3 separate regions of the Homo sapiens genome follow, and all the other regions are linked to region 1. The links come from fine-mapping of genetic effects on gene expression. A gene starts in region 1. Each other region holds a variant in brackets. All regions are shown on one strand. Distances are between the middles of the regions. Region 1 holds the start of HRK (harakiri, BCL2 interacting protein). Region 2 overlaps FBXW8 (F-box and WD repeat domain containing 8). Region 3 overlaps RNFT2 (ring finger protein, transmembrane 2).

What was found. PIP is the estimated chance that this variant, and not a neighbour inherited with it, causes the effect. A credible set is the group of variants that fine-mapping cannot tell apart.
Region 2: its variant is the best candidate, but not a certain one, in a credible set for the expression of HRK in whole blood (TOPMed, PIP 0.51).
Region 3: its variant is the best candidate, but not a certain one, in a credible set for the expression of HRK in whole blood (INTERVAL, PIP 0.64).

What each region holds. Positions count from the first base shown.
Region 1 is chr12:116,875,597-116,885,819 of GRCh38, forward strand. It overlaps HRK (harakiri, BCL2 interacting protein), which reads right to left and starts at 5,845. Exons shown (of 2, transcript NM_003806.4): 1 at 5,380-5,845. The coding sequence starts at 5,711. The coding sequence ends at 5,436. RefSeq lists silencers at 4,374-4,574, 5,453-5,532 and an enhancer at 6,038-6,999.
Region 2 is chr12:116,942,681-116,952,903 of GRCh38, forward strand. It overlaps FBXW8 (F-box and WD repeat domain containing 8), which reads left to right. Exons shown (of 11, transcript NM_153348.3): 3 at 2,684-2,848; 4 at 6,938-7,026. Among named protein-coding and RNA genes, the nearest start is that of FBXW8, 37 kb to the left of the region's middle. The variant G/A (reference allele first, on the strand shown) is at 5,345.
Region 3 is chr12:116,842,627-116,852,849 of GRCh38, forward strand. RNFT2 (ring finger protein, transmembrane 2) reads left to right here. Exons shown (of 11, transcript NM_001382266.1): 11 at 6,688-10,223. The coding sequence ends at 6,822. Among named protein-coding and RNA genes, the nearest start is that of HRK, 34 kb to the right of the region's middle. The variant A/G (reference allele first, on the strand shown) is at 5,948.

The DNA.
Region 1 (10,223 bases):
ACAGTGGCGCGATCTCGGCTCACTGCAACCTCCGCCTCCTGGGTTCATGCAATTCTCCTGCCTCAGCCTCCCAAGTAGCTGGGACTACAGGCACACACCATCATGCCTGGCTAATTTTTGTATTTTTAGTGGAGATGGGGTTTCACCACATTGGCCAGGCAGGTCTCGAACTCCTGACCTCAAGTGATCCACCCGCCTCAGCCTCTCAAAATGCTGGGATTACAGGTGTGAGCCAGCATACCCGGCTGATGTTGCATAGTTTCTGATTCATTTAACACAGCACATAGTTATTGTACACCTACTATGAGACAAGCAAGTTGCCAGGGACTAGGGACACTGTGGGTTAGCTTTCTATTCCCGTGAAATCCTATCACAGGGACACTAGTGAGGACTACCAAGAAACGGAAGCCCCCTCCCCACCTCTCGTTATCTGCCTGTCTAAAAGGCTGACTTTTCAAAAACTCTAGAGTTATGATTGCCAAATCCAGCCAGCCCACATCTGGGGGTATATTTAATTATCCCCGGGTGTGGCTCTTTTCCATCCACAGCTCAGTCACTTGTACTCTGGCCTCTCACTATGCGAGCGGATGACTCCAGACAGAGACCATGTGGCAGGAAGGCTGCCTGGTTCTGCACATCTGGCCCCTTCCCGGGGGGTTCCTCCCCAACAGCTGTCCTCCTCGGGCTCCCTCGCCAAACAGAAGGCCAAGCTTTCAAGCTCTAAAAGTAATTCTGGCAGGGGTGCTGCGAGCTGGGAGGGAGGCCTGCGGGATGCGCCTCCAGGTTTAACCACTTAATCCCCAAAGTACCTGCCAAGAACCAGTTAGCATGTCTGGCTGGTGGGCCAGGCTGTCATTAATTCATTAAAGCAGGCTCCCGCTGGCCCATTATCTTCCTTGCCACTGACCACGTCGCCTTATGGGCCTGCGGAGTCCCCCTCTCTCCCCTTCCCCTGCTCCCAAGGCAGGATTCTACCCAGCCCTGGCCCCGACTCCCAGGCAGATTCCTCGGCTCCATTCTCTCTCCCTCCCTGCCCCCTCCCCAGGCACGCTTCTCCCTCCCTCCCTCCCACGCCTCCGCCAGCCAGCACTCACCATAAAGCGTCTTTTGTTCCCTCTCTCCTGTATCTTTGAGTATTGACTGGTTAAATCATACCCATCCTCCTCCAGGCCTCCCCAGCCTCAGAGGAGCCTCCCCTGGGGCTCTGGAAGAAAGGGAATTTCACTTGTACAGGAATTCACTGTGCACCAACCCGGTCTGCTTACTGCCCCTATCTCCTCTTCCCCCGCAAGTCATGGGGTGGGGGGCGCTGTGTGCCCTCAAAGACAGAAGCTGCAGTTCCACTGGGGATCACTTAGGTGGATGCTCTCTGCCTCGGCTTCCCCTTTGAATTAAAAGGAATGACACTGACCATTTCATGACATCCTCTGTTGAGTGAAGTTAAGAGACAGACACTGCACTGGACTTTTTTGAGACAAGAGTCTCACTTTGTCGCCTAGGCTGGAGTGCAATAGTGCGATCTCAGCTTACTGCAACCTCTGCCTCTGGGACTCAAGTGATCCTCCCACCTCAGCCTCCTGAGTACCTGAGACTACAGGTGCACACCACCATGCCCAGCTAATTTTTTTTTTTTTTTTTTGGTACAGACAAGGTTTCACCATGTTGCCCAGGCTGGTCTTGAACTCCTGGGCTCAAGTGATCCGCCCACCTTGGCCTCCCAAAGAACTGGGATTACAGGACTGAACCACTGGCCCGGCCTGCACTGGACACTTTAAATGAATGTTCTCTTATCATTCTCCCAATAACCCTGGAAGGATACAGCTCCAGTTTACAGATAAAGGTGCAGAGGTAATGGTTCTTTCTCAAGGTCACGCTGTCAGCAAATGGCTGGACACTTAAGAGTCTCTTAACCATTATTCTCTCCTGACCCTTCTGGCACTGACTTCCCGGGAGGGCAGGTAGGAGTGGTGTGGAATGGCCAGCAATAATAATGGTAAAATGTTGACTACCTTGGGAAAGAATGATAGTAAATGCACAATAATAATCATGATGGCTCACATGTATATCCACTGTTCTAGAGCTTTCCGTGTATGAATTCATTTAACCCCCTTAATAACGTGCCTATGCACTAAGTCTGGCTGGTGGGCCCCCATTTTTTGCCCCCATTTTACATATGGGAAAACTTAGTCTTGGGTTTTTGTTTCTGTTTGTTATTTTTTTAAAGGATGACTTCTGAGAAAAGTATTGCTGGTTCGCAGTAGAGACTCAAAACAAGTATGCTGGATATATGTATGTGTATATACACATATATGTTTTAAATTATTATTGAGATGGAGTCTCGCTCTGTCGCCCAGGCTGGAGTGCAGTGGTGTGATCTCAGCTCTTCTTGGCTGACTGTAACCTCCGCCTCCCAGGTTCAAGCGATTCTCCTGCCTCAGCCTCCCGAGTAGCTGGGATTACAGGTGTGCACCACCACGCTCAGCTAATTTTTGTATTTTTAGTAGAGATGGGGTTTCACCATGTTGGCCATGCTGGTCTCAAACTCCTGACCTCAGGTGATCCACCTGCCTTGGCCTCCCAAAGTGCTGGAATTACAGGCGTGAGCCAACCTGCCTGGCCTGTATGTTGAAAATATTGATTCTGCATATAGCGGAGCACACCCTTTAAACCTATGGGAATTGAAAGTGGTAGTTCCCACCCTATATGGCTGGCACAGGCCTCCCTCAAACACCTAAGGTACAGCTGTGAACATTCCCCTTTTTCTTTTAGGGTAGGGAAGGTGGAGAGCACCCCATATCCAGCATAGAACGCAACAGACTGTCTTCCTCCGGTGATTTTTCTTTCCCCTTTACTTAACTTACCAGAGCTGGGAAAAAATGAGTTTCCCCAAATTAAATCAAAAGCACAAGAAAGGCCGGAGCGGCTGGTATTCTGAGGTCAGATGTAGGCTGCAGGGAGAGAACTTGATCAGGGCCAGTGCAGGGAGCCCGAGCACTGAGAACCCGGCCTGGGAGCGCAGGAAGGCGGGTGGTGAGCAATTCTACGGGTGTCCCGAGGGTATGAGGGGCGGTGCTGCTGGGAAGCCGAGCGGGGCATCCTGAGGTCAGGGCGCCAGAGGCTGCAGAACCCTGGAGGGTGTGGCTGCAGGGGACGCCCGGGCGGGACAAGGCAGGTAGGAGAAGAACCCAGAGGTGTGGGAAGAGGGTGTCTCCGAGTCAGGGCGCAGCACGGAAGTAACTCTGGGGTAGAAGGCGAGGGCGGGGCGGGGGAAATAAACTCCACAGAGACAATAACCTGCTGCTGCCCCCCAACACCGACTCAAAACAGCGAAACTCCTGGCCGCCGCCCTCCCCTGCAGCGCAGGCCCCAGTTACCCAACTCCTCCCCTGCGCTCCGGCGCAGAGCGGCGCAATCTGCCCGCCCCGCCCGCAGCCTCCCCTTCCAGGCCCCGGGAGCATTCCCACCCCGACACTCACACACCGGCAAACAGGAACACACAGTCAGGCTCCGGCCCGGAGTCCTCGGCCTCCCGGGAGGGGCACCCGACATCCCGCACGCCTGGTGCCGGAAGGGGAGAGCGTTTCCAATCTCCTGGACGACAGAACCAGAGAAAGCCGTGTCCCAGCCCTCTCTCCACAGTTCTATTTGATTTTACTACCTTCCTCTCTTTCCTTCTCATTCACTTTTCAATTGTCTTGCAACTTGTTTTCCAGGCAGTTTCTCTTTTTCTCTATCCTCCCCAAACTTCTTGTCCCTCCCCATCTCGTCGCTTGTTTTTTCTCTTCCTCTTCGCCCACTTTTTTTCTGCCTCTTCCCAAATTCCACGCTTTGGGCTTCGCGTCTGTCGCTCAACTTCCTTTTTCTGCACCCCGCGATCCATCCAAAATGTTCTTCCTGTCCCTGGGATTGGGCAGCCTCAGCCTGGCCCCTTTCAGTCGCGGGAGCCCCTGGCCTCTCCAACAGGAGAGAGAGAAGGTAGGGAGAAGTGGATGGGACCCCCGGCGCCCGGGAGCCGGGCAGAGAGCGCCCCGAAGCGCGCATTTCTCTTCGCCAGCGCCCGGGCTGCGCGGGCCCACGCGACATCTGTCGCCTGCGGTCCCGGCTCACACCCCGCGCACCCCCGCAGCTCCCTGGGCGCTGCCACCCCCCACGCTCCGGCTGCCGCCTTTCCCCGCGGGCGCAGACGCTCGGGCCTCGCCTTCAGGCGCCGCTCCAACTTCCCAGGGTGTCTGCGGCGCGCGGCGGGGCTCGGGGGCGGGGACCTAAGGGCGGCTGGCTATGTCACCTTCGAGCTTCACCTTCCGGCCCTAGACCCATCTATGGTGGGCTCAGCCTGATTCTCTCTCCCTCATTCTCTGCAGCGCTCCTCGCTACTCCAGGATCCAGAGTAGTAAGACGATGCTTACGCTGTGTGCTTCCTCAAAGCGCCTAGCACAGTGCCAGGCGCACAGCTAGGGCACAATGATCCCCCCACCCCAAGAGCCTAGTACCTTCCTCCCACTGATACCAACCACACTAGGTGCTCAGTACCCACTTCCTGTCCTAAGTTCTCAACACATGACCTCCCTAAACAGTGCCCAGCACCCCGAAGGAGCTCAATAAATGTTCCTTCCTTAAGGCTTCCCATTGGAGTTTCCCTGAAAGCCCCCTATTCCAGCCCACTCCGAGGGCGTCTCCTTCCCGTAGCAGCTACAACCGTCTGGGGAGAAGGAAGCCAAACTCCTTAAACAGGACACCTCACTCGAGAAGGAGCGAAGTTGGCAGGGCAGAGGAAAATTGCAAATGCGCGGAGCTTGGGAAGAAAGATTGGGCCAGCCAGAAACCTGGAGGGGGAGGAAGTCTCGAGATGCGCTTGGGGTGCCAGATAATGGGGATCAGAGATTGGAGAAGTGACACTTAGGGACAAGAGGTTGGGAGCAAAGGTGATGGAGACGGGGGCGACTCAGGAACGGCAAGAGGATTGGAACGGGACCGGGGACCTTTCTTGGAAGTGCGATAGATTTTAAGTATTTGGCGTGGCTTACAACTACATTCCCATAGCAAGCACACTTTTTACTTGCATTGTGTGTTTATTTGTGGGGCTGGTGGGGATTATGGAGGCTGAAGTCCTCCGCAAGCCACTGAGCTATAAGTGAGTAGCAAGATGCGCTTAAGGACTCGCAGAGATGGGGGCAGAAACGGTGGACCTTACACTTGGAAGGGAAGACTGGGGACTGGGTAGAAGAGGAGAGGTGGAGATGCTTGCAAGAGAAGAGAACGGAGGAAGAAGGAGAAGGGAAAAGAAGAAAGCCAAACTTGCCACTCTCCCGCTCCCGGGCCAGCCCAGCGTCTCCAGTGCCCAGCTGCCGCGCCCCGGCTCTCGCTCGCTCGCTCGCGTACCTGTTGCTCGCTCCGGCTGGGTCTCGGCTCCGGCCCCACCAAGAAGCCCCGCGTTCCTACAAGTTCCGCCTGCCGAGCAGCCAGGCCGCCAGCGCCGCCACCTGCGCGGCCGCGCACAGCCAAGGCCAGTAGGTGGGGAGCGCGCCGGGCGCCGGCGCCCTCCGGCTCCGCGCGCGGCGCCGCCACATGGTGCGCTGGTGCAGCTCGTCGCCTAGCGCCTTGAGCCGGGCGGCGGTGAGCTGCGCGGCGGACGAGCGCAGCCCCAGGCGACCCGCGCTGCAGGCGCACACGGCCGGGGGGCCGCGGCCGCGGTGCAGGGGGCACGGGCACATGACCGCTGGCCTCGCTCCCGCCCCGCGCTCGGGCCGCCCCTCGCCTCCTCTCCCTCCGGCCTCTGCGCCCGCTGCCGCCGCGCTCCAGCCGCCGGGGGCCTCCCCTGGACACCAAGTTTCTCCTTGTGTTGTGCGTTTGTTGTGCTGACGGCGCTATTATTAATTAAAGTGTCACATGGTGGAGGGGGGCGGGGAGGGGGGTTACATCATCCGGCCCCCGGGGGTTGGGGGGGGGGCTGCAGGCAGAAGAAACCGAGAGGTAACTTTTAACCCTAGCGGCGCCGGCAGCTAGGGAGCGCGAGGTTTGGGAGACGGGGAGCGCGGCGCGGGGCGGCGCGAGAAGGCTCCCCGCAGCGGAGGTCCTGGGCTTTGGGGGTCTCGGGGGACCCCCGCGGAGGCGCGGAGCGCGAGGGAAGGTTGTTCTCCTTCCCCTTTTCCTGAATTCAGCTCGAGTTCCGATTTGGCGAGGGAAAAAGGCTTGTTTGCCGTTTTGGATGAAGCTGATGCTGAATTCGGCTGCATTATTCAAAAATATTCCGAGGCTGTTGTTTTGTTTGGGGGAGGTGGGTGGATTCAAAATCTTATGGAAGGGTCAGATTACACCCAACTTGCCTCGTTTCAGGTCTGACTTGGCACCTGTAGGCTTTCAGCCTGACCCTAACGTGCCCCCAGCGCCTGGCTAGAAACCTGACCCTAAAGTGCCCCCAGCGCCCGGTGGGAGGCTGGATGGGCCCACCTGAGCTCGCGTGGGGCGCGGACGGAGGCATTCTCGCTGCCCGGCACCCGCACCCAAAAGACCCTCGCAAGGGGCTTTCTAAAGGGAAACTTCTTGTCTGCTTTCTTTGTGAACATTATTTTCCTGATGGCGTTACAGTTTTCTGCGATGACCCCGATTTAATGCGCAGTGGAGACCCTAAGGGGTCGGCGAGAGGAGGGGCGCGGGGGACTTTAATTCCCCCTTTTCCAATCCGACAGCCACTCCTGTGCACCTCCAGACTGGAGCGTCTGCAGTTGTCACAAACGGTGAAGGTTCAGATGGGCTGGGCGGCTGTCAGGATTCTGTGGGGGAGAATGAAACCTGTGATCTTAAATCGACTGGGATTCAGACAACTTTGGGATTCAGACCATCGGGATGAGTCCAGAGATGGCTCCAAGTTGGGAGTCTGGAACCTGCTGAGGGAGCTTCCGTTCTTGCCTTCCCACCGCAGAGTATAACCAAGATTCTTCGAGTCTGTGAACTTAGTTTTGGTCTGAATTGATCAGGAGGAGAAATGTCCCTTTTGGCCCACAGCGTGGTGAAATGACAACAAAGTCAGGGCTCAAAGCCCACAACACTGTGTGATTCTGGTGGCCTTTTCCCTCACCCAGCTCCAATTATTCTAGGCTTCATAATGGCCAAGACCTACTGCGCATCTTCTATGTCTGGCACCTGTGGGCTTTGGGCGCCCTTGCCTCTGCTGCCTAAAGGTAAATCTCCCAACAATTCTACATGCAATTACTATAATATTTCAAAGATGAGGAAGCTGAGGCACAGGTAGGTAAGGGTTCTTGCCCTAGCTCACAGAGTAGCTAAGAATGAAACCGTCATCTGAACTAGGGCAGTATGCCGCAGGCTCTAAGCTCTTAACCACGGTTTTATACTGCCCCCTGTAATCTGGGAATAATAATACCTCCATCCCAGGATTGGGGCAGAGATTAAATGAGAGAAATGTGTGCCAAGCACCTGGCACGCAGTGGGCCCTGGATAGACCTTGGTTCCCTTTGCTTCTCGCCAGAACCACTTCCCATTCTCCTGGGACTCACCTCCTTAATCCCCCTAGTCTTTACAGAGGGGACCTGATCCATTGCCCGGGTGTAGCGTTCCAAGAATGAAGACACAGTGTCTATTTAAAAAGCCCTTTGGATTTAAATTGAACAATTCCCTCCCCCCATTTTTAATCTGCACGCTTTTAACGGCTCACTTCATGGACATTAATTTTAATGGGACGATTATTACCCTGTTTGGAAGCCTGCCCCTCGAAATGCTGGGCTCGCAAGGTGGCGCTGGGTCGGGTCCCAGCAGCTTGGATGTTGTCTGTAGAAGAGGGGGTGCAATCTTGGCCGTGGGGATGCAACGTTCAGCAGAGGGGGAAGAGAAGGGGGTGATGAAAAAGTGGGAGAGAAGGAAGGACCTCTCTCTCCCTGACACTCTTAAGTCTGGCAGTCCTTAATTTGCACACATGAGTTATCCTGTGCTATTGGACCACTTACTAACTGGGGAGCATGGCCTTGAGAGGTGGCTTTTTGGAGCCTCCATTCTCTCAACTGTAAAGTGGGAATAATAATAGTACCCACCTCCCAGCCTAAATACCAGGAAAGCCCTTACTTAGCACAGTGCCTCCTGGCCCATCATTAGGTTTTTTGTTTTTTGTTTGTTTGTTTGTTTGTTTTTTAGACAGAGTCTTGCTCTGTCACCAGGCTGGAGTGCAGTGGCACGATCTTGGCTCACAGCAACCTCCACCTCCAGGTTCAAGCGATTCTCCCGCCTTGGCCTCCCCAGTAGCTGGGAGTACAGACACCCGCCACCACGCCCAGCTTATTTTTGTATTTTTAGTAGAAATGGGGTTTTGCCATGTCGGCCACGCTCGTCTCGAACTCCTAACCTTCAGTGATCCTCCTGCCTTGGCTTCCCAAAGTGCTGGGATTACAGGCATGAGCCACCATGCCCGGTCCCATCACTAGCATTTAATAAATGTTGACTACTGTTAATATTTTAGAGTGGATCATGTAGTTGTCAAATAGTGTACTTTGAAGAATGTTGGGGATCCACACCCTCAAATATATATAGTTCCCCTATTGTGAATTGGTGATTCCATTGCTGATATTAAGCATTGCTCAAAGAAAGCAAATTCTTTGGGAGGGTAACATGTCTCCTAGCACTTTTTAAATTGTCTTAATTTTTATTAAAAAAAATTTTTTTTTTAAATGGTGTTTCTCTCTGTGGCCCAGGTTGGAGTGCAGTGATGAGATCATAACTCACTGCAACCTCCAGCTCCTGGGCTCAAGCAATCCTCCCACCTCAGCTCTGGAGTAGCTGGGACCACAGACACACACCACCACACCTGGCTAATTTTAAAAAAACTTTTAGAGATTTTTTTGGGTCTTGCTATGTTGCCTAGGCTGGTCTTGAACTCCTGGGCTCAAGTAATCCTCCCACCGCAGCCTCTCGAGTGGCTAGAACTAGAGGCGTGCACCACCGTGCCAAGCTTCTCCTAACAGTTTAGTAAAAATGAGTTGTCGATTTCAATGTTTAACTTAATAAGCACTTATATAGTGCTCGCTCTGTGCCAGGTGCTGTTCTAAGTTCTCTAGACACATAACTCCTTTAATTCCCCTAATAACCCTATGAGACAGATACTATTGTTAGCCCAACGTTATGTATGCATAAACCAAGGCAGAGGGGTTAAGTAACTCATCCAAAGTCACACACCTGCCACGCCCCAGAGTTTGAGCCCTTTAGAATTAGGGTGACAAATGGTTACTGGGGACTTGGGAAGAGGGAGGGAGGCTGTAGTGGGATGAATTCTGTCCCCCCTGCCACCGCTCCACCCCAAATTGATAACCCCTGGAACTTCAAAATGTGGCTATATTTGGAGATAGCATCTTTAAGTAATTAAGTTAAAATGAGGTCATTAGGATGGACCTGAATCCATTATGACTGGTGTCCTCATAAGAAGAGGAAATTAGGACACAGACACAGACACACAGAAGGAAGACCATGTGAAGACAGAGGAAGAAGGCATCTACCAGCCAAGGAGAGAACCTAGAACAGGTCTTTCCTTCACAGCCCTCAGAAGGAACTAACCCTGCCCGGGCCTGGTGGCTCACACCTGTAATCCCAGCACTTTGGGAGACCCAGGCGGGTAGATTGCTTGAGCACAGGAGTTCAAGACTAGCCTGGGCAACATGGTGAAACCCTGTCTCTACAAAAAAAAAAAAATAGCTGGCATGGTGGTGTGCTCCTGTGGTTCCCAGCTACTCAGGCGGCTGAGGTGGAAGGATTGCTTGAGCCCAGGAAATCAAGGCTGCAGTGAGCCGAGATCATGCCATTGTGTTCCATCCTGGGTGACAGAATGAGGAGTGAGGCCCAGTCTCAAAAAAAAAAAAAAAAAAAGGAACCAACCCTGTCAACTCATTGAACTTGAACTTCCAGCCTCTAGAACTGTGAGAAAATAAATTTTTGTTGTTTAAGCCCCTGAGACTGTGGCATGTTGCTATGGCACCCCTAGCAAACAAATATAGAGAGGAACAACATCCTAAACAGGAAGCTAGAAGCAGATATTTCACCAGACTCTGGCTGCTTTTACTGTGGGGCACATGTGAGGACATTTTTCTGTGTTCTTGGGAAGGATGGGTTCTAGGACTGTTTGCCTGTTCCTCTTTTTTTTTTCTTTTTTTTTTTTTGAGACGGAGTCTTGCTCTGTCTCCCAGGCTGGAAAGCAGTGATGCAATCTCAGGTCACTGCAACCTCAG
Region 2 (10,223 bases), 67 kb after region 1:
CTGATTTTTCTTCCAGCTCAAACTTGTTGTTGAGCGCCTTTAGGGAATTTTTTATTTCAGTTCCTGTACTTTTTAACTCCAGAGCTTCTATTTTTTTTTTTTTTTTTTTTTTTTTGAGACGGGGTCTCACTCTGTTGCCCAGGCCAGAGTGCAGTGGTGTGATCTCGGCTCACTGCAACCTCTGCCTCCCGGGTTCAAATGATTTTCCTGCATCAGCCTCCTGAGTAGCTGGGACTACAGGTGCGTGCCACCATGCCTGGATAATTTTTTGTATTTTTAGTAGAGATGGGGTTTCATCGTGTTAACCAGGATGGTCTGAATCTCCTGACCTGGTGATCTACCCACCTCAGCCTCCCTAGTTTTTTAACAGATAATTTCTATCTCTTTATCATTATCTTCTATATGGTAAGACATTGTTCTTCTACTTTCTTTTATTTCTTTAGACATGCTTTCTTTTAGTATTTTGAACATATTTGAAATAGCTGATTTAAAGTCTCTGTTTAGTAAGTCCAGCTTCTGGACTTTCTCAGGGTTAGCTTCTGTTGACTGCCTTTTCCCCTGTGTATGGGCCCTGCTTCCTTGTTTCTTTGCATGCTTTTGTAATTTTGTTAAAAACTGGACATTTTAAATAATGGAAACTCTGGAAATAGAATCTTTCTCCCTCTTCAGAATTTGCTGTTATTGCTATTGTTATTTTTGTTGTTGCTGCTGTTTGTTTAGTGACTTTTCTGGAATAATTCTCTAATTTGTATTATTTGTCATGTGCACCTCCTGAAGTCTCTGCTTGGCTAGCTTAGTGGTTAGCTAGTTATCAAATGGAGATTTCCTTAAATCCACTGAACCAGTAAGTCTCCCAGCCTTTGCTGAGGTGCTCTCTGTATATTGGGGTACTGCTTCACCATTCTAGCAGCTTACAGCTCTGCCTTAGCCTTCACTTCCTGCTTGTGCAGAGCCTCAGGGTCAGCCAGAGGGGAGAGGTTAGGGCCTTCTCTGGTCTTTCCTGGGCACACACATAGCCCTATACATTCACGTGGCATTCCAGACTCCCAGGAATATATTGGAGCCTTTCAGAGCCTCCTATGGACATCCCATTTCCAAGCTTTTTCTTTCAAGCTTTTTGGTCAGCCTCTAACAGCCCCAGCTAGCAGTGCCTCCTCAGGCAGCTGTAGAGTTAAGCAGTTGCCACTTACTATTTTGGGTAAATGCCCTGGAGATAGGACAGAGACAGTGCTCAGCCAGCTCAGATAAAGACAAGCCTTGAGAATAGAGCTTTCTGGCAAGCTGCCAGCCAGGTCAAATGGTGACAGTTCTCTGGGGATTTGATTTTTGGGGACCTCTAAACTTGTCTGGCCTCTCTAATGGCTGCTAGGCTGCCGGTTTTTACAGCTGCTATCTTCACGAGGTTGTTGATTTTTAAGGCAATCCTGGAGCTGGAAGAGGAAACAGAATTAGCACACATTAAAACAACTTAGACGTCACTGTTCTTACTGAGATTTAGCCACTTTTCTTGGATAAATGTTCCTCAGAATGTTGCAATCCTTTTGTTAATTTCCAGACTCCGAAAAAGTTGATCGATCATTTTTGGTGGAATTCTTACTGCTGTTATGGAGGAGCAGGTCTTTGGAGGTCTTTAATCTGCCATCCTGCAAACTAACTCTCTGTCAGTGCTTTATCAGCTGAGGCCCTTTGTGCAGTAAGAATCTGGTCTCCTACTTTCTCTCATTTTCCTTCTTTCCGTCTCTGTCTTTGAGTCTTGAAGTGGCCCTAAGGGAGTGTTAAAGAGTACAGGGTACTGTAACCTACCCGCTACCACTCTTCATTAGAAGTGAGACTCAACTTTTGGATGGATGGCAAGCATCAGGCACTTGATCCTGCATTCCCAGAATGCTGTGCAGACCGGGATCACGCTGATCTGCTCGATCAGTTTCTCATCTGCCAACAGAGTCCATCTTTTGCAGTCTGGCCAACTTTGCACATGATCCTGTGATTAAGTAAACCTTTTGTTCCCCTAAATTAGTGTTGGAAAACAAAATGCTAATAGTTAAAATGGCCATTTCCTCTGGATACTGTTGGGATTTGAAAGTCAGGCCAGACATAACATTAATTTTTCTAGATCTAATCTTACAGTCCTGGATAATGGCTTGAGTTTTCTGTTAATTAAATATATACATATGTTTAAAATCTAAATTCTCACATGCAATTTAAATTTGAATTTTTTACCTGACCAGATGTTTGGGTTATAGGTAATTTTATGACAGCCTTTGATTTTGGAGGCCATCAATCTTCAATTCTGTAAGGTGGAAATACAAATGCTTTTTGTCAAAAGTAAAGAGATTCCATTCTGAAAAGCTCTGTATGATTGTATAGCTAATTACCATGTAAAAGTTTATATTTTTTGCATTTTATGTATTTGTGTATTTTCTTCTCTTATTTGTTAGATTACAATATAACCAAGTAGTCTAAAATGTGATATTACATGGTGGTACAACAATTTTGAAATCTTGAAAGATAAAACTGGAAACATTTGCTTGTATTTTTTTTTCCACCTCATAGTGTTTTGTTAATGAGACATTTTATACTGCCATAAACCCAGGGCAATAATATAGGTGTTGATTGATTTTTGGATGACAAGGGGCTTCTCTAATTGCAGAATTTGACATTTGTGTCACTTCTGCTGTTTTAGGTGAGCAAGACGTGGAAGGTGATTGCAGAGGATGAGGTGCTGTGGTACAGGCTGTGCCAGCAGGAAGGGCACCTTCCGGATAGCAGCATCTCTGACTATTCTTGCTGGAAGCTCATCTTCCAAGAGTGCCGAGCCAAGGAACACATGTTACGAACCAACTGGAAGGTGGGCAGTGGCCAATATCATTACCTGTGAAAGAATAGCCTGCAAGGACATGGGAATCCAAGCTTTCACTCATAGCCTGAGATTAATTGCCAACAGCGAAGGGAGAGGGGTACACTGAGCCTCCCCTTCAGCTGTTGGTGACTTGTTGCCCATTTTGTTCACCATTAGATGATCTGCCTCTGTTTTCAGCCTCAAGATTTGGGAACATCCTCTTATTCTGCAGGAGAGGAAGGGTGAGATTGGGTTGCCAGCCACTTCCTCTCGGATTGTTAGGGTGGTCAGAGGAGTGCTCTGTGCAGCCCCTTTGACTTTCACCGACTCTCTGGAGGGACCCAGAAAGCAAAAGCACTACCTGCATACAAAAGAGGAGCTGAAAATGTCATTTCTAGTAAATGTAAGAGGGAGATGATTAAACATCTCTAAGCACTGTCTTCTCTTCCCTCACATAACCTATTGGCGTGCTTCCATAACATTTATCACTTCAAAGTCTCTACGGAAATATTAGATCACAGCTAAGAATTTGCACAGTGAAGTGTTTCCATAGGAGATAACTGTCAAGAGCCGTGTTACATAAAGCTGTTTGAGGCATGACGAGACAGCAGTGTGGTGGCAGTGTTTCTTTCTCACCTGGGAGGCTGGAGATTCAATGGTAGAGAAGGGATGGAACCATTCTCTTTACTCCCATAAAGGTCAATCCTAATAGACTTTGAGATTAACAAGCTTTTGTGCATTACTGATAATGACAAATTGCCTATGTGCCTGTCTGTCCCTACTCACCTCCTAACCTGATTAGTGACCAATACGCTTGATCTGGGCAACCTCACACGGTTTCTAGCAAAGTCAATAAGAGCAGTGTCTCTCTAGTTCAGGGGTTCTCAACCCCAGCACTAGTGACATTTGGGGCCAGCTAATTCGTTTTGTGCGGGGCTGTCCTGTGCATTGCAGGCTGTTGAGCAGTATCTCTGGCCTCTCCCCATTAGACGCCAGTAGCATTCTCTTCCTCCCCCAAGTCATGACAACTAGAAATGCCCCTAGACATTGCTGGATGTCCCCTGGGAATCAAAATCCCCTCCCAGTCGAGAACCACTGTTCTGAGAGTTAGTGTGGCTATCCTTTCTTAGGCTGTTAAGACACCACCACTAAGACAGGTCACGCTGGCCCCACAGTGCCCTTTTCCATCCACCTACGGTAATAAACTCGTCTGGAGGGAGCCCCCAGTCCCTCTTGCCCGTGTGCCTGGGTAGGTCCATGTGATGCACACAGGCAGAAAGGTATGACAAAGAAAGCTGCCCAGATAAACAAGGGGTCAGAAAGCAGAGGGTCTAACCCTGGTGGGAGGGGCTGCGATTTAAGGAAAGCTTGAGAGCTGAATGTTAACGGGGTCCTTTCTCTCCAGAAAGGAGAGATACTTTTGAGATTTACAAGCAGGAGAGTTGGAGATATTTGGCATCCCCAGGCTTGAATTCGAAGATGTCAGACCGTGGTAGAGAAAAGCAGCAGCTGTGTTTTTTGCTTCCTCTTTGGTGATAGAGAAAGCAAGGGAAGAGGACAGGTATGTCCTTGTTGGGCCTGGAGGTGGCAGAAGTGACGATATTTTAAAGACCCATCACCTAGCATTTGGCACTTAGTAACACTTTACAAGTTATATACAATCTAGCTGAATGTCTATTTAGTATTTATTTCTAATGAACAGGAAGTCATGTGTTAGGTAAGTACTCACTACATGGCTGTTGATTGAGTGAACTGGAGCGGACTGCAGGCTGAACCAAACATGAGGGAGACTTCTATTTGGAGCGTGTAAGGTCCATTTCCTGACAGTGTTAACAAGGAGAATTCTAGGAGTGAAATTTTAAATGATGTATCTTTCATTAAATGTAATGGTGGGATTCTTACCAAAATTCTGGAATGAAAGAAAGCCTTATCAAAACATGAAAGGCGGCCCGGCACCGTGGGTCACTCCTGTAATCCCAGCACTTTGGGAGGCTGAGGCGGATGGATCACTTGAGGTTAGGAGTTCCATGGCCAATATGGTGAAACCCCATCTCTACTAAAAATACGAAAATTAGCCGGGCGTGGTGGCACACACCTGTAGTCCCAGCTACTGGGAGGCTGAGATTGGAGAATCGCCTGAACCCTGGAGGTGGAGGTTGCAGTGAGCCAAGATTGCGCCATTGCACTCCAGCCTGGGCGACAGAGCGAGACTGTCTCAAAAAAAAAAAAAAAAAAGAAAAGAAAGAAAGAAATGAAAGGCAGTGTTGGGGCAAGTTGCTTTACTTTTGTCTGCCTCCATTTTCTCATCTCTAGAGTAGGGGCTAGGAGTGGCACTGCTCATGGCGTCATGGTGAGGATGATCGTCATCAAGTGTCTGCCACTCCTGCAGAGCCTGGTCCACGCTCAGTGCTCAGGCGAGGTTGGCTGTAGGAGAGCATAGGCCTCTGCACACAGATGCAGGGTTCTGTGCTGTGCGTGCTCGACTTCAGGATGGGTTAGGCAGGC[G/A]ATTTGGTTTGGTACCTCTTAAGTCAGTGTCTGGGGAGACCCTAGAAGGGACCCCAGGGTTCTCAGGTACCTCCACAAAGAGAATGGCCTGCAAATGCATGAAGTTATCTGGAATTGCATTTCAGAGCCAACCTGGAAATGATTTGCTAAACTAATTGTGGTGGCCATAGTGTTTTTTTTCCTAGTGTTTGCATAAATGCAGGTTTTCATCTTAGGCCCTCTATTTTTCTTTCAATACTTTTTCCCTCACAAGAGATTTTCTGTTATTGTAACCTTGGTTGCGGCCTTCACACAGCTGACTCCCAGATCCTTGCCTTCCCTCCCCATATCTCCACTTGTAGGACAGCTCCACGTGGATGTGTCTAGTTTTATCTCTCAGCCTTAGACTCATTCCTTGGATTAAGTTAAGACCATCATGCAAATTACTTTGCTCAGTTTCTAGAGTCTAGGTACTTAATAAATGTGTATTTTAATGGAATGATGTCATCTTTTTCCTAATAATAGAAATAATAATAATAATGGCTACCACTTATTGAACACTTGCTGTATGTTAAGAACTGTGCTGGGCACTTACACTGTTTCTAGTCTTTGTCCCAGTCTGGTAAAGTTGAAATTATGGTATTCTTGAATACCTTTATTCATGCTTGCTTTGTGGCCTATCTCACTTTTCCCAACCTCCCACATGTAAATACTTTATGTGCATTCAGATTCCCTTCATTTTAATTCAATTTAATTTTTTATTTTTTTAGAGATAGGTTCTCACTCTCTTGCCCAGGCTGAAGTACAGTGTTGCAATCATAACTCACTGTAGCCTTAAGTTCCTGGACTCAAGTGATCCTCCTGCCTCATCCTCTCAAATAGTTGGGACTACAGGTGCATGCCACCACACCTGACTGTCTTTTAAATTTTTTGCAGAGATGGGGTCTCCCTGTGTTGCACAGGCTGGTCTCAAAACTTCTGAGCTCAAGTGATCTTCCTGCCTCTGCCTCCCAAAGTGCTGGGATTACAGGCATGAGCCACTGTGCCTGGCCTAGACTGTCATTCAAATACCATTTCCATGAAACCTCTGGCCTCTCAGTTAGAAATAGTATCATCTCATCTCCTTTTCCTCATCCTGATCTTTATCTATTTGTATATAATTTTGCATTTTATTCTGAGAGTCCTTATAAGAATTAACAGGTAAGGTATCATGTAATACTTTCTTTTTGCTGAACGGAACTTTTTCACATACTTTATAAGTTTCTTTAGATACTTGCCACTCCCAGCAGATACATGCCAGCCTATTGTGGATGGTAGTTATTGGTGAGCACATATTTGCTTTCTATTCTGTAACCTCCTGGAGGATGGGGCAATGTCTCACACGTCCTGTGTCCTCGAGTTCAGTGCCTTTGGGATATATGGTAACTCGCCCATGCTTAACAGCTTAGCATGTTAGTCATCATCTTTGTCTTTTTGAATGCCCATGGAACTTTGAATGCACTTGTTGTCCATGCTGTAGAGAATTGCTGTGGAAAGTAGGTGAAAAAGCACGATGCTTGGCTTTCGGGCTGTCCCGAGAGCAGTCTAAACTGCATCCCCCTTTTCCTCACGCAGAATCGCAAAGGTGCCGTGAGCGAGCTGGAGCATGTTCCTGACACAGTTTTGTGTGATGTGCATTCTCACGATGGTGTGGTCATTGCGGGGTAAGCCAAACCGTTTCCACTGAGTGCTCTGCATCTGAAGGTCTTTCATTTTTCTCATACCACCCTCTGAGTACCAGTGACCTTAGCTTCCTTTGAGAGCATGTACCTCCCTCAGTTACAGCCCATGTGGAAGAGGGAGAGTCTCCGTGATTCTGTTCCCAAGGACGTGAGAGCGCGCAGCAAGGGTGAGAAGCACATGGTGTAGAGCGGATCTGTGATCCATTTGTCTCAATATGTCTTTCCCAGCTTTTAAATCACTCTTGTGGCATGTTATGTGAGATTTTCATTAAGGCAAACAGTTTGTATTTTATGAAGACATAAAAAAGTCAAGCAAAGATAATAAGTGTTGGCACAGACAGGCCCTGTTCTCATTCTCTTTTTCTAAATCCCTTATTGTGAAGAAGGGCTTTGGCCACACATAATCTTCCTTCCCCACCATATAGTACCTATTTGTTACTTAAGTTGTCCTGACATTGTTTTTTTTTTTCTCCATGGCCAACACATTTAATTTTAGCTTCTGTAAATTCCTTCAGCTTCTGTCCCAAAAACCACTTTGATGAAGTCTTCCTACTTTGTTACAGAGGTACATTTATATATTTATTTACTCTACAATAAGATCAGTTTTCTTTTTGGATTAGGAAGATGTCATGAACTACAGCCTCAGACTGTATACTTAATGCCATAAAGTAGAAAGCAGAACACTTAAATTTCTTAGTTTGGATCAGCTATGGAGTGAGACGCCTTAGGGAACTTCCTGCCTATGGGAAAATAAAACAAACCTTGGACTTTAAAACTCAGTAGTAGAGGAGTCCTTTTCTTTAAAGAAAAATCTTTCTTTAAGCAGCATTCCTTAAAGAGCACCTTTTGAATAGAAATTCCACACAGTCGGATTATTTTAATATTTTGTGGCATGCAGTGCCTATGAAAAAAAGTATTTCTGCTTTAAACAAGATGTACCCAGGAGGCAGGCTTTTCTTCAGTTTCTGTTTCACTGGCTATGATTTAGAGGTGAAAGCCCTTCTTGGGAGTGCTGCAGAACTAGTTTTAGAAAGGTTGATGGTCCAGATACTTGCGATTCTGTCCATTAAGTTATCGATGCTCGTTGCTAAAATGTGGGCCTGCGATCAACTGATATGCAGCTCCTTTCTACCCACGGATGCTACAGTTTGGTGTGAACTCCGGAAGGTACTTAGATCATTCCAGCTTAAAGGGATCTCTGCCTAGAGTGTCAGAAGACACTTGAGGACAGAAGGCTGAGACTGGACTGAAAGAGTCGCAAAAGAACTTAAAAATAAAGGAGAGCCTTGACTCTCAAAGCCAATTATGAATTTCTTCTCTGGAGCTCCCGAAGGGCAGGCCCCCTACGAGTCCAGATGCCAGTCCTTCTCTCTCTGCCTCTCTGTTCCCTCGGGGTCTGTTCAACATTACAGATTATGCCAGCACAGAGCACGATGGCCACGTTCTGTGGATCGATAGGATGAAACTTGATCTGTGGGTCGAGAGGCTCCTGGTGGCTCCTCTTTCTAAGAAAACCTTACGTTGATGGCTTAGCATGAGAGACTTCAGTCTTGCTTGTATGTAGAGCATCTTGTGTTTATCATTAAAATTTTATCTGGTGGTTACGATGCTTGTTTTCTGGGTCAGATCTTGAATCCCTTTTCATTTGAGACAGCGGTGTTTGTGGTTACCTCATTCCCAATCAATGTTGAATTCACCAGGCTTTCTACAGTTATGTATCTCCAAGGAGCTTCTTAAAGAGACAGTGGCCAACTCACCCCTTCTTTCTCTTGTACTTACCTCGTGTTTCTCTTATTCTTCTTTTTTCCTTCCCTTTTCTCTTTCTTTTGCACAAGTGGAGTCTGTTCAGAGGCTTAGTTTTATGTACCTAGAGCTAAACTATGAAGCATTTTTGCATTTACACCTATTAAGTACATTTCACATCATTGATGGAGAGCAGAATCTCTTCTTCTCACCTTTTCAGCTCTCTATGTAAATATTCCTAGTTTGGGGCCATGCTGCATAGGCCCAGACTGATATTTATTGCAGTGAACCTCATGATGGACCCAGTCATGGTTCTTCCCTACTCTCCTTTTCACATAAAACCAGTGAAATCTGAAAATAGTCACTCGTTGATAAACGCATTTGACACTCAAATACCCATCATGTGAACAGGACCTGGTGCCTGTCTCCCTGAGGCTTGTTTTTCCAGTGGGGAAACATTCTTTCCAAAGCATTTGATTGTTCACTCTTTTGTCCGTGAGTCTTTGCTTACTCTACAGTCTTACAAATAATTTCTAGTTAACTTTTCCTGACATTCAAAGCTCTTTGACATTTCTTTCCAAGCTACCTTTTTCCTTATTACACTTTTCAAGTGTACCTTTGTTTTTTCCACACTGTTCTATTTAGTTACCTCTGACTGCATCATTTTTTTAGTTAAGATACAGTCATATGCTGCATAACAGCGTTTTAGTCAATGATGGGCCCCATATATGACATTGGCCATTCATGTACCCTAGGTGTATAGTAGGCTCTGCCACCTGGGTTTGTGTAAGAACACTCTGTGATGTTTGCACAAATGATAAATTCACCAAAGGATGCATTTTTCTGAGTGTAACCCTGTCGTTTAGTGACACGACTGTATAATTCATATGCCATAAAATTCACTCTTTCAAAGTGTACAATTCAGTGATTTTTTCTTAGTAGATTTACAAGGTTGTGCAACCAACACCACTATCTAATTCCAGAACATTTTCATCAACTGGAAACCCAGAACCCATTCTTTAAGGCCTACTCCAGTCCTGTCTCCTCCCAGAGATTTCTCTAGCACTGTAGCCTAGCGTCCATTCTTCTCGGAACTCCTAGAGACGGGACCATCTACAGCTGACAGGGCAACTCATCGTGTGGCCTTGCTGTTTCACTGAAACATTTTTTGTTTTATATTATTATTTTACTTAGAAATAATATTTAACTTTACAGCCATCTACTGTATTTTCTTTCCAGCAATTTGTAAGCATCTTTTTAAAATTTACATTTAAATTTTTATTGTTTTGAGACACAGTCTCACTCTGTCGCCCAGGCTGGAGTGCAGTGGTGTGATCTCAGCTCACTGCAACCTCCACCTCCCAGGTTCAAGCGATTCTCCTGCTTCAGCCTCCCGAGTAGCTGGGACTACGGGCGTGTGCCACCACACCCAGCTA
Region 3 (10,223 bases), 33 kb before region 1:
GCAGTGGCATGGTCTTGGCTCACTGCAACCTCTGCCTCCCGAGTTCAAGCGATTCTCCTGCCTCAGCCTCCCGAATAGCTTGGATTACAGGCACCCACCACCATGCCCAGCTAATTTTTGCATTTTTAGTAGGGACGGGGTTTCGCCATGTTAGCCAGGCTAGTCACAAACTCCTGGCCTCAAGTGATCCACCCACCTTGGCTTCCCAAAGTTTTGGAATTACAGGTGTGAGCCACTGTGCCCGGCGTGTTTATACTTTATAAGGGGTAGTGGCTCATAACTGCCTGTTCTCCTCCTCACCTGCATTCATCCACCTGGACCCAGGCCTGGCTGCTTCCTGCTTTCTCGGCTCACGCTGAACACCAAGTGCTAGGTCCAGAAATGCCCCTCTCCCACTCAAAGCCTCTTCTCTCACATTGGGGCTGGCTCTTGTGATTGTAGGCTCTTGTCCCAAGCCCCACCTGCCTGCTCTGGATCTTTGGGCAAGACCTGGATAGAATTTGGGGTGAGGGTGAGGTGACTGGTTTAACCCCAATTCTGTGCTTCGGGAGGCACGACCAGGGGGCAGTTAACAATCCAAGGCCAGCTGGGCACAGTGGCTTGCACCTGTAATCCCAGCATTTTGGGAGGCTGAGGCGATTGGATCCCTTGAGCCCAGGAGTTTGAGACCAGCCTGGCCAACATAGCAAGACCCCAACTCTACAAAAAATACAAAAATTAGCTGGGTGCCATGGTGCCTGCCTGTAGTCGAGCTACTCAGGAGGCTGAGGTGGGAGGATCACTCGAGCCCCAAAAGGTCGAGGCTGCAGTGAGCCTTAATCACACCACTGCACTCCAGCCCAGGTGATAGAGTGTGACTGTGTCTCAAAAAAAAAAAAAAAAAAAAAAACCCCAAGAAACAAACAAACAAAAAAACAATCCAGGGCCACCTGCCTTCCCCACTGCCCATCAATCCACCCGATCCTATCCTTCCCAGCTGAGAAAGGGCTCCTTCTTCCTCCCCCTTCCTCTGTAGACGTTCATCCCTTTCTCCACATGCTGGAGGCAGTCCACAGCCGTGAACTCCTCAGCTGGGCCCTGGGGTAAACCTGGTTTTTTGAACCTTTTCATTTGACACCAGATTCTGTCCTCCCATTTCTCTGAGGAAGGGATTGTGAGCTCCCGGAGGGCAGGGACCAGTCCTTCATCACCCTAGTATCGCCAGACTTTCCTGTTTGGTCATTTGTCATCTGCATTCCCATTCATTTGTCCTCTCCATTGACAGAGCCCCTACTCTGTACCAGCTCAGGGCTGGACAGTAGGAGTACGATAACAACATGGCTGCCCTCATGGCGTTTACCACCTAGAGGGCAGGGCAGATGTTGACTAAGCATTTAGAACAGTGGTTCCCAAAGTGTGGCCAGGGTACCCCTGGGGGTTCCTTTCAGGGGGTCTGTGAGGTCAAAACCATTTATATAATAATACTAAGACATTATTGGCCTTTTCACTCTGGTTCTTTCATGAGTATACAGTGGAGTTTTCCAGAGGCTGCATCGCCTGCGAGGAGGTCATCACTCTGGTGGCTCATGAATATGTGCTTGTGTATTATGGGTTTTTTTTTTGTTTTGTTTCATTTTGTTTTTCAGACAGAGTCTCACCCTGTAGCCCAGGCTGGAATGTAGTGGCACGATCTTAGCTCACTGCAACCTCCACCTCCCAGGTCACGGTTCAAGCAATTCTCCTGCCTCAGCCTCCCGAGTAGCTGGGATTACAGGCACACGCCACCATGCCCAGCTGATTTGTGTATTTTTAGTGGAGACAGGCTTTCGCCATGTTGGCCAGGCTGGTCTTCAACTCCTGACCTCGTGATCTGCCCACCTTGGCCTCCCAAAGTGTTGGGATTACAGGCGTGAGCTACCGTGCCTGGCCATTATGTTTTAAATATGTCTCCGTTTCTATTTCTAAATATTTCTAATATTTCTAAATTTGTAAATATAGACAAATTTAAACCACATAGACAAAAGCTCTTTGAGGTCTTCAGTGTTTTTAAAAAATATAAAGGGGTCTTAGCACCAGAATATCTGAGAACTATTAAATTAGAAGTGTGAGAGCCTCAGTGAATGTGTTGAATGAATGAGTGAAAAAACTGCTAAATTTCATGGCTATTTCCCATTCACTTAACCAAGTCTATGTGAACAGGGGTTGTGTTGCATTCTCCTATGTAAGTACCTCTTTTGTCCAGGGTAGCATAGTTAAGTCCCATTTGGTTGGTCAATAGATATTTACTGAGCATCTGAGCAAGAACCGTACTCAGCATAAAACCAGGTTCTGCCCTCAGAAAGCTCTCAATCCAGTGGCTGGGCATGGTGGCTCACACCTATAATCCCAGCACTTTGAGAGGCCAAGGTGGGAGGATCACATGAAGCCAGGAGTTTGAGACCAGCCTGGGCAACAAAGTGAGACTCCATTTCCACAAAAAAATTAAAAAATTAGCCAGGCATGGTGGCACGTGCCTATAGTTGTAGCTACTTGGGAGATTGAAGCAGGAGGGTCACTCAAGCCCAGGAGATCAAGGCTGCTGTGAGCTGTGATCGCACCACTGCACTCAAGCCTGGATGACAGAGCAAGACCCGGTTTCAAAAAAAAAAAAAAAATATATATATATATATAGAGAGAGAGAGAGAGAGAGAGCTCTTAATCTAGTGAACAATCAGATGAATTTGCAAATAATTCCTCATGCAATGCTTTGAGAGGGGTTTTCACCAGGAAGAATGGCATAGGAGAGAAGACGCGATCAGTACTTACATTTGCAGGAGACAGTAACAGGATGGAATCGGGGCAACATCATAAAACAGGGGAGACATGATTGCTTGGCTGAGTCTTCCAAAAGAACTGGGCATGCACCCAGCTGGTCAAGATGGAGAAAGGGCATCCCAGAGTGATACTAAAGTTGGTTGGAAGGCTGTGAATAAGCCATGGGTTGAAGGTCATGTGGCACGTCAATGACATCAGTTACTCCAGGGTGTGAGGATGGGGCTGGACGGGAGACGGGCCATCATAGAGGGTAATGGGTGCCATAGTGGGAATCTGTAGAAGCTGCAGGGCTTGCTGACCCCTGGGTCCTGCCCTCCAGACCATGATGAGAATCCAGTATGGTCTTCGCGGCTCTGTGTGGACTTCTCTCCTTTCCCCAATCCCTCTCTCCCCTGCACCCCCAACTACAGCCACATCAGCTATCTTCAAGTGCCTCAAACATCTTCCTATCTCAGGAGCTTTGCACAGGAGACTTCCTTCAGCCTGGAATGTTCTATCTCTATCCCATCCCCTCTCTTCTGCCCAGTTAACTGCCAAATGTTCTTCAGGCTTCGACTCAAGTGTCCCCACCTCCAGGAAACCTTCCTTGACTACCCCTTGGATCAAACTGGTCCCTCTGTCACACACCTCCATAATACCATGGAAATCTCCTTCAGAGCACTGTCTACAATTAGGCACCCACTGTACACCATGCTAGGAATGAAGGGGTTTACAAGAAGCTTACAGCCTGGTATGGAGAGACAGATAATAAACTGTAAACACATAAGATAATAATCATTATTACTATCATAATAGCTAATAGTTATAGAGCACTTACTATTTGCCAGTCATTATTCCAAGTGCCTTCTTTTTTATATTATTGTTATTTTTTTAGACAAGGTCTCACTCTGTCTCCCAGGCTGGAGTGAAGTGGCATGATCATAGCTCATACAGCCTCAACCTCCTGGGCTCAAGCAATCCTCCCACCACTTCAGCCTCCCAAGTAGCTGGGACGGCACATGCCACCATGCCCAGCTAATTTTTTTTTTTTGTAGAGACATATGGGGCATGGGGGTGGAGGAAGTCTCGCCATGTTGCCCAGGCTGGTCTCAAACTCCTGGCCTCGAGCCATCCTCCTGCCTTCGCCTCCCAAAGTGCTGGGGTTATAGGCATGAGCCACTGTGCCCAGTTTCTTTTTTGTGGTTTTGCTTTTAAAAAAACATTTTGTTTAGATTTTTTTATTATTATTTCCTCAAATGTTTCATTTTGAAAAATTTCAAACCTGCAGGAAAGTTGCATGAAACTCTTCTATTCTTCATCCAGATTTACTGATCATTAACATTTTACATTTGCCCTTTTTTTGACATCAATTTTTTTTTCCCTAAACCAGTTAAGAGTAAGTGGTAGACATTTAGATTCTTCATCCCTAAATACTTCAGTGTGCATCTCCCAGGAACAAGGACATACTCTCAGATAATCACAATTCCACTAGCATGCCCAGGATTTTTTTTTTTTTTTTTTTTTGAGATGGAATCTAGCTCACTCTGTTGCCCAGGCTGGAGTGCAGTGGCGCGATCTTGGCTCACTGCAACCTCTGCCCCCTGGGTTCAAACGATTCTCCTGCCTTAGCCTTCCAAGTAGCTGGGACTATAGGCGTGTGCCACCATGCCTGGCTAATTTTTGTATTTTTAGTAGAGACGGGATTTCACCATGTTGGCCAGGCTGGTCTGAAACTCCTGACCTCAGTGATCCCCCCGCCTCAGCCTACCAAAGTGCTAGCATTACAGGTGTAAGCCACTGTGCCTGGCCACCCAGGAAATTTTAAATTAATGTGACATATTATTTAATATATGGTACATATTCAGATGTCTCCAGTTGCCTTCAAAGTGCCCTTTATAGCTGGCATTTTTTTTGCCACCCCTGGGACCAATCAAGACTCATGTGCTGCATTTGGTTGTCATAGCTAAGTACTTTTAACATGTTAATTAATCTTCCAATGAGGGGGTTCTATCCCCATTTTACAGATGGGGGAACTGAGGCACAGACAGGTTGCATTACTTGTCCAAGTTATACAGCCAGAGAACGGTGGAACCCATTGGTCTTTCCAATCTCCCTGCCTTTCTCTCTCTCTCTCTTTTTTTTTTTTGAGGCAGAGTTTTGCTCTCGTTGCCCAGGCTGGAACACAATGGCACGATCTCAGCTCACCGCAACCTCTGCCTCCAGGGTTCAAGTGATTCTCCTGCCTCAGCTTCCCGAGTAGCTGGGATTACAGGCATGTACCACCACGCCTGGCTAATTTTGTATTTTTAGTAGAGATGGGGTTTCTCCATGTTGGTCAGGCTGGTCTCAAACTCCTGACCTCGGGTGATCCGCCCACCTCAGCCTCCCAAACTGCTGGGATTACAGGTGTGAGCCACCGCGCCTGGCCCTCTCTCTTTTTTAAAAAATTTAATTTAATTTTAAGTTCCAGGATGCATGTGCAGGATATACAGGTTTGTTACATAGGTAAACGTGTGCCATGGTGGTTTGCTGCACCTATCAACCCATCACCTAGGTATTAAGCCCCACATGCATTAGCAATTTATCCTGATGTTCTCCCTCCCCCAGCCCCCGCAACAGGCCCCAGTATGTTGTTCCCCTCCCTGTATCCATGTGTTCTCATTGTTCAGCTCTGATTTATGAGTGAGAACATGTGGTGTTTGGTTTTCTGTTCCTGTGTTAGTTTGCTGAGGATAATGGCTTCCAGCTCCACCCATGTCCCTGCAAAGGACATGATCTCGTTCCTTTTTATGGCTGCATAGTATTCCATGGTGTATATGTACCACATTTTCTCTATCCAGTCTATCATTGATAAGCATTTGGGTTGATTCCATGTCTTTGCTATTGTGAATAGTGCTGCAGTGAACGTATGCGTGCATGTATCTGTTTATCGTAGCACTAGTTACCTGCCTTTCCTCTTGACCCTTGTGTTCTATTCTCAACCTAGAAGGCGGAGGGATCGCTTTAAACTGCAAATCATATCAGGTCACTCCTCTGCTCCAAGCCCTACCATGGGCCCCTTACTTCTCTCAGAATAAGAGCCAAAGACCTCACAATGGCCCACAAGTACCTACACCATATGCACCCCTCACCCTCCATCACTTCTGTGACCTCATCTCCCTCTCCCATCCACCCC[A/G]ACAACCCCAGCCCAGCTATCCTCTCCTTCCTGTTCCTCCCGCACATCAAACACAGTCCAGCCTCAGGGCCTTTGCACATTGCTGTTGCTGCTAGAAGTGCTTTTCCCCAAGATCTCATCAGGGCTCACTCCTCACTGTCCTGCAAGTTTTACCCAAATGTCAGTATCTCCGTAAAGTTGTCCTTAACGTCCCAACCCGCCCAAGCCCTCCCTGTTCCTTCTCCCTCCTGCTTTTTGTTTGTTTGTTTTTTGTTTTTTTGTTTTTAGACAGATTCTTGCTCTGTCACCTAGGCTGGAGTGCAGTGGCACAAACTCAGCTCACTGCAACCTCTGCCTCCGGGTTCAAACGATTCTCTTGCCTCAGCCTCCCGAGTAGCTGGGACTACAGGCGCCCACCACCACGCCCGGCTAATTTTTGTATTTTTTAGTAGAGACTGGTTTTCACCATGTTGGCCAGGGTGGTCTCAAACTCCTGCCTCAGGTGATCCGCCCATCTCGGCCTCCCAAAGTGCTGGGATTACAGTCCTGAGCCACCACACCTGTCCCCTCCCCTGCTGTTTCATCTTGGTGCTTCCTACTGATAACTCAGTATTTTGGAGTCGCATTGTCTCCCCAACGCGAGTGCAGGCGCCCCGAAGGCAGGGGTTGTCTGTCTAGTCCGCTGCCCCTTCTCCTGCTCCCGAGACCGAGGCAGACGCTCAGTAAAGAGTCCTGGTGCCTGCTGATTGCTGTCCCCGCAGCACGTGTTCTGTGAGGAGTGCCTCTGCCTGTGGCTGGACCGTGAGCGCACCTGCCCGCTCTGCCGCTCGGTCGCCGTGGACACCCTGCGCTGCTGGAAGGACGGCGCCACGTCCGCACACTTCCAGGTGTACTAGGACCGAACACTGAGGACACCCAGAAGGACGCCAAGGGTCAGCATGCCCGGACCCAGCCCTGCGGGGGCTTCCTGAGAAACAGGCCTCAAGCACTTACATCCTGCCTCTTGCCCTCCACCACCTCTGACCCCAAAGTCCCGCCCCTGTCTTGTCCTTCTGACCTTCATCTTCCTCTCTCGTTCTGTGGTATAGTGCGTGCCTCCTTCCCCTGCAAAAGGGGACGTCTTCCTAACTCAGACTTGATGCCCTTCTAGATGCATCTTCCTTCTCCACTCCAAGTCAAGGACCTGGCAATACATGAAGTTCCCACTTGTTGGTTATTTTCTCTTTCTTTTTTCTTTTCTTTTCTTTCTCTCTCTCTCTGTTTCCCTCCCTCCCTCCTTCCTTCCTTCCTTCCTTTTTTTTTTTTTTTTAAAACAAGGTCTCGCTCTATCACCCAGGCTGGAGTGCAGTGGCACAATCTCGGCTCGCTGCAACCTCCACCTCCTGGGTTCAAGCGATTCTCCTGCCTCAGCCTCCCGAGTAGCTGGGATTACAGGCACCCACCAACACACTTGGCTAATTTTTGTATTTTTTAGTAGAGACAGGGTTTTGCCATGTTGGCCAGGCTGGTCTCCAACTCTTGACCTCAAATGATCAGCTCGCCTCAGCCTCACGAAGTGCTGGGATTACAGGCATGAGCCACCGTGCCCAGGCTCACTTTTTTTTTTTTTTTTTTTTTTTTGAGACAGGGTCTGGGTCTTCACCCAGGCTGGAGTGCAGTTGGCACAATCACAGCTCACTGCAACCTTGAACTCCTGGGCCCAAGCCATCCTCCCGCCTCAGCCTCCCAAGTAGCTGGGACTACAGGTGTGTGCCACCAGGCCTGGCTAATTTTTTTTTTTTTTTAATTTTTAGTAGAGGCGAGGACTTATTATGTTGTCCAGGGTGTTCTCAAACTCCTGGGCTCAAGCAATCCTCCTGTCCTGGCCTCGCAAAGTGCTGAGTGCTGGAATTACAGGTATGAGCCCCTGTGCCCAGCCCACCTGCTGGTTATTTTAACTTAGTACCTAGTACCTAGGACTTGATGGTGCAGGCTGGGGAGGAGCCTAGAGATCACTGCCTCCCAGATAGCCCAGGCCTGCAGATTAGAATCCCTGTGAGCCCTGTGAAGTATTTTTTCTTTTCTTTTCTTTTTTTTTTTTTTTTTGTTGTTGTGAGACAGAGTCTTGCTCTGTTGCCCAGGCTGGAGTGCAATAGCACGATCTTGGCTCACTGCAACCTCCGCCTCCCGGGTTCAAGTGATTCTCCTGCCTCAGCCTCCCGAGTAGTTGGGACAACAGATGCGTGCCACCATGCCCAGCTAATTTTTTTTTTGTATTTTTAGTAGAGATGGGGTTTCACCACGTTGGCCAGGCTGGCCTCAAACTCCTGACCTCAAGTGATCCACCTGCCTCAGCCTCCCAGAGTGCTGGGATTACAGGCATGAGCCACCACACCTGGCCCAAAGTATTTTCAAAATACAGTTGTTGGGCCCCACCATATACCTGTAATGACTTAAGGTCCCAAATACTTCATGCGCAGCAGGCAAAGCATGCAGCATCCTGCTTGGATTACGTGCTGTCATCCTCACAACAGCCCTGTGATGGGGGAGGTACTGTTGGGTCCCCTGTTTTATAGATGAGGAAACTTGGGCACAGAGCTTGGTGCGGTAACTTTCCCAGGGTCACCCAGCCAGCATGGGCGGGCCAAGTTTCCAACAGAGGCCTGGTACAGTTTCAGAACCCACATCTAAAAAAAAATAAATTTATTAGAGATGAGGTTTCTAATAAAAATCCAGGTTGTCCAGGCTAGATTCAAACTCCTGGGCTCAAGTGATCCTCCCTCCTCAGCCTCCCAAGCAGCTGCAACTACAGGCACACTCCGCTATCCCCAGCAGAGCCCGCACTCTTAACCTCCGCACTGCTCTGCCCCTCAGACATTCCAGGCATGGGGCCCAGCAGACACGGTCTTCTAAAAGCACACGAGAGGCCGGGTGTGGTGGCCCATGCCTGTAGTGCCAGCATTTTGGGAGGCTGAAGCAGGCGGGTCACCTGAGGTCAAGAGTTCAAGACTAGCCTGGCCAACATGGCAAAACCCCCTCTTTACTAAAAAATACAAAAATTAGCCGGGCGCGGTGGCGGGTGCCTGTAATCCCAGCTACTCAGGAGGCTAAGGCAGGGAGAACTGCTTGAACTCGGGAGGTGAAAGTTGCAGTGAGCCGAGATTGCACCACAGCACTCCAACCTGGGTGACAGAGTGAGTGAGACTCTGTCTAAAAAAAAAAAGAAAGAAAGAAGGGAGGGAGGGAGGAAGGAAGGAAGGAAGGAAAGAAAGAAAGGTCAGCTTTGGCCCAGATGTGGTTACCCCTTGGTCTCCTGTCTTTATGTCTTTCTCCTCTTCCTATTCTGTCATCTCCCTCACTTAAGTCTCAGGCCTGTCAGCAGCTCCTGTGGACATTGCCATCCCCTCTGGTAGCCTTCAGAGCAAACAGGACAACCTATGTTATGGATGTTTCCACCAACCAGGGTAGTGGCATGGAGCACCGTAACCATCTGTGCTTCTGTGATCTCTATGACAGAGCCACTTCTCCACCTCTGAAATGTTCCCTGCTCTGAAATCTGGCATGAGATGGCACAGGTGACCACGCAGAAGCCACCAGAATCTTGCCTGCCCTATTCCTCCTCCCAAGTCTGTTCTCTTATTGTCAACCTCAGCACAACAGGCTGGCGCCAATGGCATTACAGAGAAAGCAATCTGTGTGGCTAGTGGGCAGATTACCATGCAAGCCCCAGGAGAAATGGAGGAGCTTTGTAGCCACCTCGCTGTCAGCCAGTATTAACATGTCCCCTTCCCCCTGCCCCGCCGTAGATTCAGGACATTTGCCCCTGTGTGCCACCAAACCAGGACTTTCCCCTTGGCTTGGCATCCCTGGCTCTCTCCTGGTACCCAGCAAGACGTCTGTTCCAGGGCAGTGTAGCATCTTTCAAGCTCCGTTACTATGGCGATGGCCATGATGTTACAATCCCACTTGCCTGAATAATCAAGTGGGAAGGGGAAGCAGAGGGAAATGGGGCCATGTGAATGCAGCTGCTCTGTTCTCCCTACCCTGAGGAAAAACCAAAGGGAAGCAACAGGAACTTCTGCAACTGGTTTTTATCGGAAAGATCATCCTGCCTGCAGATGCTGTTGAAGGGGCACAAGAAATTGGAGCTGGAGAAGATTGATGAAAGTGCAGGTGTGTAAGGAAATAGAACAGTCTGCTGGGAGTCAGACCTGGAATTCTGATTCCAAACTCTTTATTACTTTGGGAAGTCACTCAGCCTCCCTGTAGCCATCTCCAGGGTGACGGAACCCAGTGTATTACCTGCTGGAACCAAGGA